Linked DNA regions of Homo sapiens. The protein of the gene in region 1 interacts with the protein of each later gene in a pairwise test. Each region holds a gene or a part of one and is shown on either strand. Other genes may lie near its edges.

Region 1 (4,148 bases):
CCAGGCTAATTTTTGTATTTTTAGTGGAGATGGGGTTTTGCCATGTTGGCCAGGCTGGTCTTGAACTCCTGACCTCTGGTGATCCGCCCACCTCAGCCTCCCAAAGTGCTAGGATTACAGGTGTGAGCCACCACGCCAGGCCAAGAAGAGTTTTGAAGAATAAGCAATGATTGTGCTGGACCTTGAAAAATGGGTAGGATTTAGACTGGGGTGGGTGGGGGTAAGAAGGAAGAGTACTGAAGGTGGTAGGAATGGCCTCTGTGTGTCTGTGCTTGCTCGCTCTTGTGCTTGAAATGTTCAACTAAGGGGCTCACACCACCAATTACTAGAAGGACATGGTCTTGCCAGCACTCTGCAGAGAAGCCACACAAACTCATCCTACCAAAGGCTTTGGAATGGCTCAATTCATATCTTTTCCTTGGCCATTTGCTCTTCTTTGGATTCTGGGAAATAGTATGGGATTCTTTCTAAATTCTCCCCCGCACTCCTTTTTTGGCTAGATTGGTTTGTTGACTGGTTTCTGCTACTTGCAACCAAAAGAATCTTATTGAGTATGAACACACATCTTTGATGATGGTAATTTATGTATATCCCACCACCTAAAATCAGAAAAAACTCGAGAGAAAATTTTAAAGGTTATGTATATAAAGCACATCCTATAAAAAGAACTGAAGGCTTCTAGTTAAGATTCTGTCACTAAACAGCAGTGTTACTTTGGAGAAGTTATTTTACATCTCTGGGCCTCAGCATCCATAATAATGATATTACTAGAATGTCTGAGATCTCTTCTAGGTCTCTTTCACTAAATAAAAATGCTAGCCTTCCTCTCCAACTGGGGATGTTTTATTATTTCATTAGTGTTATTTTGTTTGCTCTAGTACTTTCCAAAAGACCTAGATATAATTAAATTTTCTTTGAATAGAAAGAGAATAACAAAATGTTAAGAAGCTGCCCAAGGCTTGAAAATATTTAAATTTGTGCTCTATGCTGGATTATCCTGCCCTATATCTGAACTTGACATACACTCTATGTCAAAGAACTGAGGAGAAATGATACTGGCACTTTTTTTAAAAAGTTAAGGGCATCCCTAGTTTGAAGAAGTTAAAGGAATAAGCAAGCAGCAACACTGCTTATTAGCATTGGCATGTAAGTAATGAAATCAAGTATGTTAGGAAGTCTTAGGCATCAGGAAGTTACACTCATTCATTTCCACAAGACCTTCTGGATCCAGCTGAATGTGGAGGCCTTTAAGAGAACTTCCAGCTCCTGTAAAAACCCAGACCAGAGGACTACTGACCAACATTTCAGGCTGATCCTCCAGACCTCGAAGTTACTCTCCTTACTCTCCTGACTCTTAATTACATCACACCTGTGTCGACACTCTCTGGGAAAAGACTGAAGAAATAATCTTTTCAAGAAGCAGGTACATTTAAAAGGCAAACCATTTTTAATATTCCTAGTAGTCTCCTTTCTTCTCATTTAAAATATGTTCCTAGAAGTTTTTTTGCCTGTGGTTCTGAGTTGAGGTCTACTAATAAAAGGTACTAGCATCTTAACAAACCAGTTAGGCAAACTTTCTATCCCTGTATTATTAAAAAGCTGCTCTTTACTTGTGAAGTAATATTCTGATCTCTATTTGATCTTCAGGAATTTTGCCACGCATGGTGGCTCACATCTGTAATCCCAACACTTTGGGAGGCTGAGGCAGCAGCATAGCTTGAGCCCAGCCTGGGCAACAAAGTGAGACCCAGTCTCCACAAAAAGATAAAAAAGTTAGCCAGGTATGGTGGGGTATGCCTGTGGCCCCAACTATACGGGAGTTTCCTAAGGCAGGAAGATCACCTGAGCCCAGGAGGTTGAGGTTGCAATACACTCCAGCCTGGGTGACAGAGCAAGACCCTGTATCAAAAAATAAAATTTAATTTTATAAAAGTTATAAAATAATTTGCCTAATTTTAACATCAAGCAGCCACATTGTTTTGTCTCTCCCTCTCTCTCTCATCTCCCTGCAAAATTCTTTCCCTCCTCCCTGTCTGTTAATTTTACTTTCTTGTGATACGGAGGGAATAGCTCACAGAGCTGCTCAAATATTTCATCAACTATAAGATGCTATCATTTGTAATAGCAACCATTATTTTACGTGCCACCAAGACAAAATACTGCTGCTAAACTTTGACAAGCTAACGATATTAAGATGTACCTCAGTTATAGAAATGGTAAATATGAAAAAAATGTGTGATATGATAGAGTTCTCCATCCCTAGTTTATAACTCCTCCCTACTCTGTAAGAAACCACATTTGCTCCCTTGAGCCATCACATCCTGTTCTCCTGTTCAGATCCTCTTCTCTCTTCTCCACACCACCTCATCACTGAAGACACAAGCAGATGTTAAGTGATGAGAAAATCAGAAGGAACAGTGGCAGGCGCTAGTATACGGTAACAGAGACCCTCTTTAGTCATTTACTTCCTAACTGTACTACCTTTACAAGAGTTTTCAAAGTTATGCCCTTCATTTTGAGATTGTAGATAATGGTTATTAGCTTAAAATATCTTCTTCCCAAAGAGAAAGTAAAATTGCATTTTGCCAAATAGCACTATAAAAATGAGTTCTGTACAATATTATAATTTTAATGTTCATTTGATGGCTTACATAAGTGCTATGCTCATCTGGTTACAATAGAATTTTCCAGTAAATAATAACGCACAGGTTATATTTCAAAAAAAAACTTCATTTTTAAAAAACTTAAGGTATGACTTCTGCTTACAAAATTATAAAACACAGGTTTCCCTGAAATACTCATTTTCCAAAGTACATGTAAAACATGAATTAATATGACTTATAAATTGTCAAGATTGCCTCTGTAGTGAAAATCAAAGAAATGTGGAATGGAATTTCACCTGAACTTCTGAGCTAGTCTGTTGTCTTTATTTGTGCTCCTTTTGACACATAGTGCCTTATGTTTTTCTATACTCCTCAAATGAAGCTAAAACATTTACCAATGTAGGCAATTTTCCTGGGCTTCCTTGAAGACGCAGTTCAACACTGCAAAATATTTACAGCTGTATTCTTTGGACTGCAATGACATGTTCACACGACCTTGTGGCCAGAGGTTACGTCCTATTAGTCCTAGGAAGGTTCAAGTACTTGGCACAGTTTGTGAGATGCTGTGGTCAATCAGTTACATAAAGTGGCTGCCATAGTACTTTTGTTAGTGTAATACCAGTAGCAGACAACATTTAGAGCAGATAAATTTTATATTTCAAAATAGAACTAAAATTTGGACACTCAAAAAGAATTACATTAACATGGGAAAATCCTTGATTCTTAAAACATGTCAATAATTAGACAGTGTAATTTTTATTTTTAACACACAAAAGAAGCCAACACAAAATATTCATACCTCAATATCAAAATGAATGTTTCTTACATTCAGTGCTATTGACAAGAGGCAATGAAGCAAGTACATGTTAAAAAAAAAGAAACTCAGCTTGTGAAAGGCAGAGGAAGGTCAAAACACAGATCAATAAACAAAAAAACAAAAAAAAAATGTGGGCAAGTCCAAGGCAGAGATATACTGTCAGATTTAAGTAAAAAGTTGACAGCAGCTTCTCTAGCTTTTACTTTCTTTCTAAGGTAATGGGAATGAAATCCTTTTAAAAGACAAGCAGAGAAGCATGCAGCTGACAACAACCAAGATTTGATAGCAGGGGAGAATGTGGAGACAGAAGCTCCCTGTTCTTATCAAACGCAGCTTCTAAAACCATTCCTTTTCCTTGAAGAGTGTCTGAATTTTATAGAGGAATGATCTGTTAAGTCTAGGAGAATTATCATACTTTTTGTATCTTCCAGTCGGGAGGGATAACCTCCTGGTAAGGTTTCACTTCCTTCCATGGCATGGGAGTATCTCTGGCATATAAATGGAGCAAGTGTATATATTACAATGATGTCCTGCATCAATCACGGGATGACAAAGACCTCATTTCCCATAAGGAGTTGGTAAAAAGATGGGAATTCCTGCTGGAATGAGTTCTGCCTTATGCAGATGGTAGGACATTAGTATTACCTCATAGTGGAAGGTTCTGCCAGAGTTTAGTTAGGCATTGGACCCAATTAACTATAGGATATACTCATACTAAGGACCAGTTT
Region 2 (2,874 bases), on another chromosome or scaffold:
TAAGTGGTTACAGTTTTTGCAAGGGTGTTCTAACTGATGACAGTGGGGTAAAGTGGGATTTCTATTGTCTTCTTTGGTTACAATTTGAATCTGGCTTCTTACTATGTCATTTTAGAATCTGCTTTGGATACTATTTACAACGTGCTTATTCTGATTCTTAGCAAATAGGAAAATAGGTGTGGTGTTTGGCTTTTCAGGAAGAATACTGCTTTGAGGAACTGCAGAGTACAGGTATTTTCATGCAATGTGCTCTGGGGTCTGTATTTCTAGGTAGAATGACTTATTTTGAACTTAAGGCTTCATATTTGCTGCCCTCTTTTCTGAAGCTATGAAAAAACTCCTTAACATTACACAATTGAAATACTTTCAGACATTTGCTGCCAAGAGGAGTGTGAAGAAAACAACAAAAGGTATTGGCAATAGAACAGTGGAATGGAAGAACTGAGTATGTCCAGGAGTTTAAGATAAAGCAATTATTGCTAGTGTTTACACATTTCTTTAGTGGGTAGAGGAGGCCACCTGATCAGCTTACTTGGTCAAGTCAATAGGCTGCCTCCCAGGATACCTCCCAGGATACCTCTACTCACAGAAATCTTGCTGCGTTAGGAAAATCTCTCAAGAGCTTCTACTGATAGTGTTAGTCATCTAACAAGTGTGACCTGATCATCCTGTCTCCACATCTAGGACTCCAACCAGGTCTTTGAATTCTAACCTGCATCCATCATGGGGCTTATCACATACTGAGTGTGTAGCTGGCCTTGTTAAGTAGGTGCCTGGGAGTTCCTTAGAAGGCTAGGGGCCCCCAAGTACCTGAGGAGAAACTTTGATTGAAACCAATTACAACATTATTCAATATAAGCTGATGATAAAGGCTTTACTATTTTGGTAAAGCAAAATCTTGAAAAACTAAAGATGAGAAAAGGAAATAGTAATCAGAAGTCAAATACTGGAAAAACTAGCACCTGGTAGTATTCTCTGCACCTCATGTGGCAGATGTTCAAGAAAAACTTTCTGAATGAATACAGCTGAGCGAAAACATAACATTCCACTTCCAGCATCAACACTGTCACTTAGAACAGTTCATTATTTTGTAGAACACTTGCATCTTGCTGGCCTCAGTAATATTTGAGAAGATAGTTAGAAATTCAGGATTTGTATCTCTTAGAGTGAATTCCAAATATTCATTTGTTTTGAGGTTTTTACAAATTTGCTGACAAGTGGGAAGCTAAATCTGTCTTCGTGTCACAAACCTGAAAGACTTTTTCTATATTAAAATTAAAAACAGGAGGTTCACAGCAATTTTCCTGAATGCTGGCTATCCTAGACATATGTGTGCCATTACTCAGCTTGCTACTGCTTAGGGAGAGGGCTGAACCACCGTTGTGTCTGAGGCCTCACAGATAAACAGAGCAAGGGTAATTCTGATTAAATAATGGTTACCTCCTGAGATTATAGGGAGCGTAGGTAAAAATTAAACCAATGTCCAATTCAATGCCCTTTAAAAAAGTGTTGTAGAGACTTAAGAGGCACGCACTGTTTAAGGACACACAGCAGGAAGCTCCTCAAACCCTTTGTGAGGGTTAGTTTCCTTTATTGTTATTGCATTTATTGTTGGCTATGGGTCATTTTACATTGGTGCTTTGTTACTGCCCTTCATTTCCTTTCAACCTTCCTTTCTGGATGTCTCTTTCTTTTTGTGTCTTACCTTAGGCACCCTGACTAAGCTTTAGGATTTCTAGATTCCTTTCCCTCAAATGTTATTGAAGACAAGGAACATTGCTACTTGTATTCTTCCATTTCTCTGTTGAATACTATGTTTCCCCACAGTAGCTCTCATCATAGTAAGCTCCCTCTGTGGGTAACTCTAGGAGCCATTTAGTCAACGTTAGTCCAAAGGTGAAATAGGGCGGATCTAAGTGTAGTCCCATTTAGGAGACTTTAGCCCAGGTTAAGCCTCACTGTAACCAAAGATTTCTAATAACGTGTGGATAATCAGTGATCTTAGCTTAAGAAATATTAAATATAACCAATGCAAATGTAAAGAAGCTTTGGGTAGTGTCTTTGAAAAACTGGAATACATATGTCCAAATGCATTAGTTGGGAAATAATGAATATAAGCATTTCCCAGCACACAATCATCTCTGAGCTGGGAATATAACAGTGCTCCTAACACAAGGAGAGGTATTTGGTTTACTCTTTGCTAAGGCCCACACACTGGAGATGACTGCTTTTGCTTTAGTTCTGCTGATCTTTTTTATTTTCCATAGGACAGGATCTGGCCTTGTAGCATGTTCTCCTCAGGCTTCCTAATGACACTGTCCAAATCTTTGTTTCACTTTAATTTTTCCACACTCTGTGTGGGGGTGCATCATCCTGCCTTGGAATAACTGGTTCCTCCCTCTTTTGCATTTGAATCTGCTGCCTCAGCACCTTATTAAATATACTGAAGCCTATGCTCATTACTTCTATGCAGTTTAAAGTGACTAAGAATCTAGCACACCAGGATTTTTCTGCCACCCAAGAATCTCAGTCCTTATTAAGTGGCTAAGTGATTCCTAATGCCTACACTAAAAGTTCAGAATTTAATTTCTGAATCGGTATGAGGCAGGAGGATGGCTTTTAATGGGGTAGTATTTCATTAAATTGAATTATGGCTAAGGTATAGTTTATACACCTTCTGTAGGACAGCATTTTTTTTAAAGGGGAATTTTTGGGACTCTAAGAGTGTAGCAAAATCTCCTTCAAGTAGGTCATTCTTGGTACATGAAATCCTGACTTTTAAAATCAGTATCTTCATATGTGGTTTTGGATTCTTCCAAAATATAGTATTCAGACTTGATGTGAAACTAATCAAAACATAGAAAAATAAATGAA
Region 3 (4,131 bases), on another chromosome or scaffold:
ACTCTCCCACAATCATGAGCCACAGCCTCATGGGGGAAGCCGCCATGTGCAGTGACATCCACTCCAGGGCAGGAGCACCACATTTTTCATCCAAAGACATAATTGCTCATCAAGCCATGTGCCAACAAGGCTGCATGGACACCTAGGGACACCTTTTATGTCACCATCAGGAAGGGGCACCTTATATAACTTTCCATAGCTTTGCTCACCGGCCTCCCATGCACTAGTTCACCATGCCTCAGTGAAACCCCAGGGCATCAAAAACTGTAAGGCCAGAAGCCCTTCCACTGGGCATAATGGGGGCATGGGGCAACCCACCCCTGAGATTAGCCTACTGGGATCACCATGAGTCCCTGGGCTGGAGACTTCGCCAGCTCCCTCACTTCAGACCGCTCCCAGACCAGGCTCTGCCATCAGCACCCTCCCCTCACCATGTCTGAACACCTCCTTACAACATTCTAGGACCCCTGCCCCTCTAGAACAGGGAGAGAGTTGGAACCATGGAGAAGGAGCTACCAGACCAGACTTCTGGGCTTCCTGATCTCACCCTCCAATGTCCTCCCCTCAGGGAACTTCCACCCTGGGGCACAGACCAGACGAGGGACAGAGATAGCCCATGAGTGAAGGAACAGCTATAAGCCCCTTCTCAAAGCCCTCCAGACACTTCAGCCTCCTTTCCTTGAGTTAGAGGCCCCATCCCAAGCTAGAGTCATTACTGTAAAAGGAGAGAAAGAAGAAAAGACAAGCTCGTGCCTAGCCTTACTTCCAGTGGGCCCTTACCCTGTGCCTGTCCCAGTGTGACCCAGCACAAAGGGGGACTGCAGAGGGTCTCCTGCCCACTGGCATCCTGCTTTGTCAAGGCCCTCACTCTCTGCCAGCTCTGCCAACCCATGGCCTCTGCCCCAGCCAGCACCTGAGGAGTGCCCACTGCACACCTTGATTCTAGCTATGCCCTGTCCAAGCAAGGACTCCCTGGCCATGTGGTGCCACGAGAAGCCCAAGCAGGAACTTGGGAGCCCCTCACACACACCCAGACCCAAAACCCACCACCCAGTGCTTCCCTTCCTGCTGCCTGTGCCAGCCCCACCTGAGCTCACTGGATCCAGCAGGGGTGGGGCCTACTGCTGTCAGGGCCACGTGCAGGGCCCGCCCGGAGGGGAGGAGAGAAGGCGGGCAAGCTGCTTTTAAGGCAGGTCTGGAGGTGAACTGGCGCCTCTCCTGACTCTTCACCTGGACTCTGAGTCGTCTTGGTCCCAGGAGCCAGTAGTGAAGGCAACAGTCTGCCCACCTGTGGACACCAGGTAGGTGCCTTTATTCTTTAAGAAGAGAGGAACACGGAGCACCTTTGCTGGCCCTGATTCATTTAAACATTTTTTTTTTTTTTTTTGAGATGGAGTCTTGCTCTGTCACCCAAGCTGGAGTGCAGTGGCGCGATCTCGGCTCACTGCCAACGTCTGCCTCCAGGGTTCAAGCGATTCTCCTGCCTCAGCCTCCCAAGTAACAGGGATTACAGATGTTTGCCACCATGCCCGGCTAATTTTCTTATGTTTAGTAGAGACGCGGTTTCACCATGTTGGCCAGGCTGGTCTCAAACTCCTGACCTCAGGTGATCCTCCCACCTTAGCCTCCCAAAGTGCTGGAATTACAGGCGTGAGCCCAGCCTCATTTAACCTTTTGTCTTCAGCTTCTCCATTTCTCAGGGCTCAGAGTGAAGGTGGGGAGAAATGGGGTGGAGGATGTGGATGAGACAGAGATGGTCTCAGGATCACAGACCGCGGAGTTCAGCAGTTCAAGGGAACTAAACCTGTGCCCCTCGGCAAATAGATGAGAGAGCTGAGGGCCACAGAGAAGAGGCTTGCCTGAGGTCATGGAAAGGGACTGGACACAGAACCCAGGCCTCTCGCCTCCCAGCGCTCTGGGAGCCCTCTGGGCACTTCAGAGGTAGACAGGACTGGGAGATGGGGCGGCTGGCCTTCACTGGTCCTATGGGTCCCTGCCTGAGGTCCACGTCCTGCGTCACCGGGTCTGGGTGGGAGGGATGGGAAGATCGGGAGCCAGTTTTCAAAAATAGGGGGTGCAGTGGAGATTGGGCTAATGAGGCAAAGTGCTTTGGGGGAGACTCAGGCTTTACCCTTGCCCCACCCTCTCCCTTCACTGACCTGGGCTCATTGGGAGAGAGTAAGTCAGGAGAAGAGGTTGGCAATGACACGGAAGAGGGGATTTGCCAAGGCACCAGGACTCCCCAGAGTCCTTGGGAACAAAGAAAGAGATCTGAGTCAGAATCAGAAGTGGGAGCGGGTAGGGGGCACCTACAAATAGAGCAGAGGTGGCTGGAGCCCTCCTTGCCCCCGCCCCGTGCCTCCCAACCACACAGAGCCCCGGGCCCAGGGACTCTCCCCACCACTTACAGCAAGAAAGAGCAAGTTAGAGGAGTGTGCGGGGCCGCGAAGGGGGCAGCATTCAGGAATACAGGAGTAAGATGGAGCCCTGCCTTGGTACATCCAAGGGCGACGCAGAGCCTTAAAAGTGAGGGGAGGCTGAAGAGGAGCGTAGGGGCTGCCTGCCCTTTGCTCAGCTCCAGGTCTGTCCCTCTTGGTTCCAGAATCCCAGAAGGGGCAGCGGTGGACAGGGTTCTTAAATATGTGAAGCAGCAGCAGAGGCTAAAAGTGTGGGACCGTGGAGCAAGACCACCTGGGTTTAAACCCCAATTCACAGTTGGGGTTGTATGACCTTGGGCAAATTCCTCAACCTCTCCAGCCCTGCAGCAATAGCACCCTCCTCAGAGAGCTGTTGAGAAAATGCAAGGTGTTCAGTGTCTGTTATTATCACATCCCCATCACACAGATGGGACAACTGAGGTCTGCCCAGAGAGGAAAGGACGCTTGCCCAGCGTGGCACAAAAGCTGTGTCCAAATTAGTAAGCAGGTATACTGGGTCCTGGTTGCGAGGGGACACCCAGCCCTCCTTGAGCTCTGCAAAGTCAGCAGCCCCAGCCTCCTCTGCAGGACACAGCCAGAAAACCCTGCAGGGAGCGCCCAGATCCTGTCCCAACAAACCCAGTCCACTTGGAGCCTGTGTGGAAAAAGCCGTGGTTCCGGCTCTGTGTCCTCAGCTGTCCCGGGAGGGCGGGAGCGCAGAGGCCGGCTCCCTTCCACTTCCATTTATAGAAAGCTTCCCGTGCCCGGGATGCCCCGCCCCCTGCAGGACCTGGCCAAGGAAAAGTCTGGCATCAGACCTACCGGAGCCACGGGCGTTGGGGGAGGCAGGAGAGGGGAAGGGGCCCTGGCTTTTCTCATGAAACCTGTGCGACCTTCAGCCAATCATGCCCCCTCTCTAGATCCCAGGTGTCCCTCTGCACTTGAATTCCATGTGGCATTGTAGCAGGACGAGCCGCAGACAAAACTCCTCAGACACCAAGTTAAAGAAGGAAGGGGTTTATTCGGCCGGGGGCATCAGCAAGACTCCTGTCTCAAGAGCCGAGCTCCCCGAGTGAGCATTTCCTGTCCCTTTTAAGGGCTCACAACTCTAAGGGGGTGCGTGTGAGAGGGTCGTGATCAATTGAGCAAGCAGGGGGTACGTGACTGGGGGCTGCACGCACCGGTAATTACGTGGGAACAAAACAGGAAAGGGATTTTCACAGTGCATTTCTATACAATGTCTGTAATCTATAGATAACATAACCGATTAGGTCAGGGGTCGATCTTTAACTACCAGGCCCAGGGTGTGGCGCTGGGCTGTCTGCTTGTGGATTTCATTTCTGCCTTTTAGTTTTTACTTTTTCTTTCTTTGGAGGCAGAAATTGGGCATAAGACAATATGAGGGGTGGTCTCCTCCCTTAGCATAAGGAATTAAGATTCCAAAATCCCACACCTGGGTTTGAATCCCAGCTCCACCATCTTTCTGGATGTGAAGCGTGTTTCTTGACCTCTCCGAGTCTCAGCATCTTCATCTGTAAAATGGACTGACAACTCAAAATAAATAAATAAGGCCAGGCACAGCGGCTCACACCTGTAATCCTAGCACTTTGGGAGGCCGAGGAAGGAGGAGCACTTGAGCCCAGGAGTTCAAGACCAGCCTGGGCAACAAAGTGAGACCCTCTTTCTACAAAAAATTCTCTGGGTATAGGGCACA

What was found.
Region 2: the proteins of KCTD4 (region 1) and FER interact in a two-hybrid assay, tested with the Homo sapiens proteins (one large-scale study listed by BioGRID and IntAct).
Region 3: the proteins of KCTD4 (region 1) and TNS4 interact in a two-hybrid assay, tested with the Homo sapiens proteins (one large-scale study listed by BioGRID and IntAct).

The regions. Positions count from the first base shown.
Region 1 is NC_000013.11:45,198,099-45,202,246, reverse strand, and holds the start of KCTD4 (BTB/POZ domain-containing protein KCTD4), read left to right. Parts: upstream 1-1,201; 5' UTR 1,202-1,423; intron 1,424-4,148.
Region 2 is NC_000005.10:109,191,752-109,194,625, reverse strand, and holds part of FER (tyrosine-protein kinase Fer), read right to left. Parts: 3' UTR 1-2,874. UniProt on the Homo sapiens protein: Tyrosine-protein kinase that acts downstream of cell surface receptors for growth factors and plays a role in the regulation of the actin cytoskeleton, microtubule assembly, lamellipodia formation, cell adhesion, cell migration and chemotaxis.
Region 3 is NC_000017.11:40,498,704-40,502,834, reverse strand, and holds the start of TNS4 (tensin-4 precursor), read left to right. Parts: upstream 1-1,211; 5' UTR 1,212-1,301; intron 1,302-4,131. UniProt on the Homo sapiens protein: Promotes EGF-induced cell migration by displacing tensin TNS3 from the cytoplasmic tail of integrin ITGB1 which results in dissociation of TNS3 from focal adhesions, disassembly of actin stress fibers and initiation of cell migration.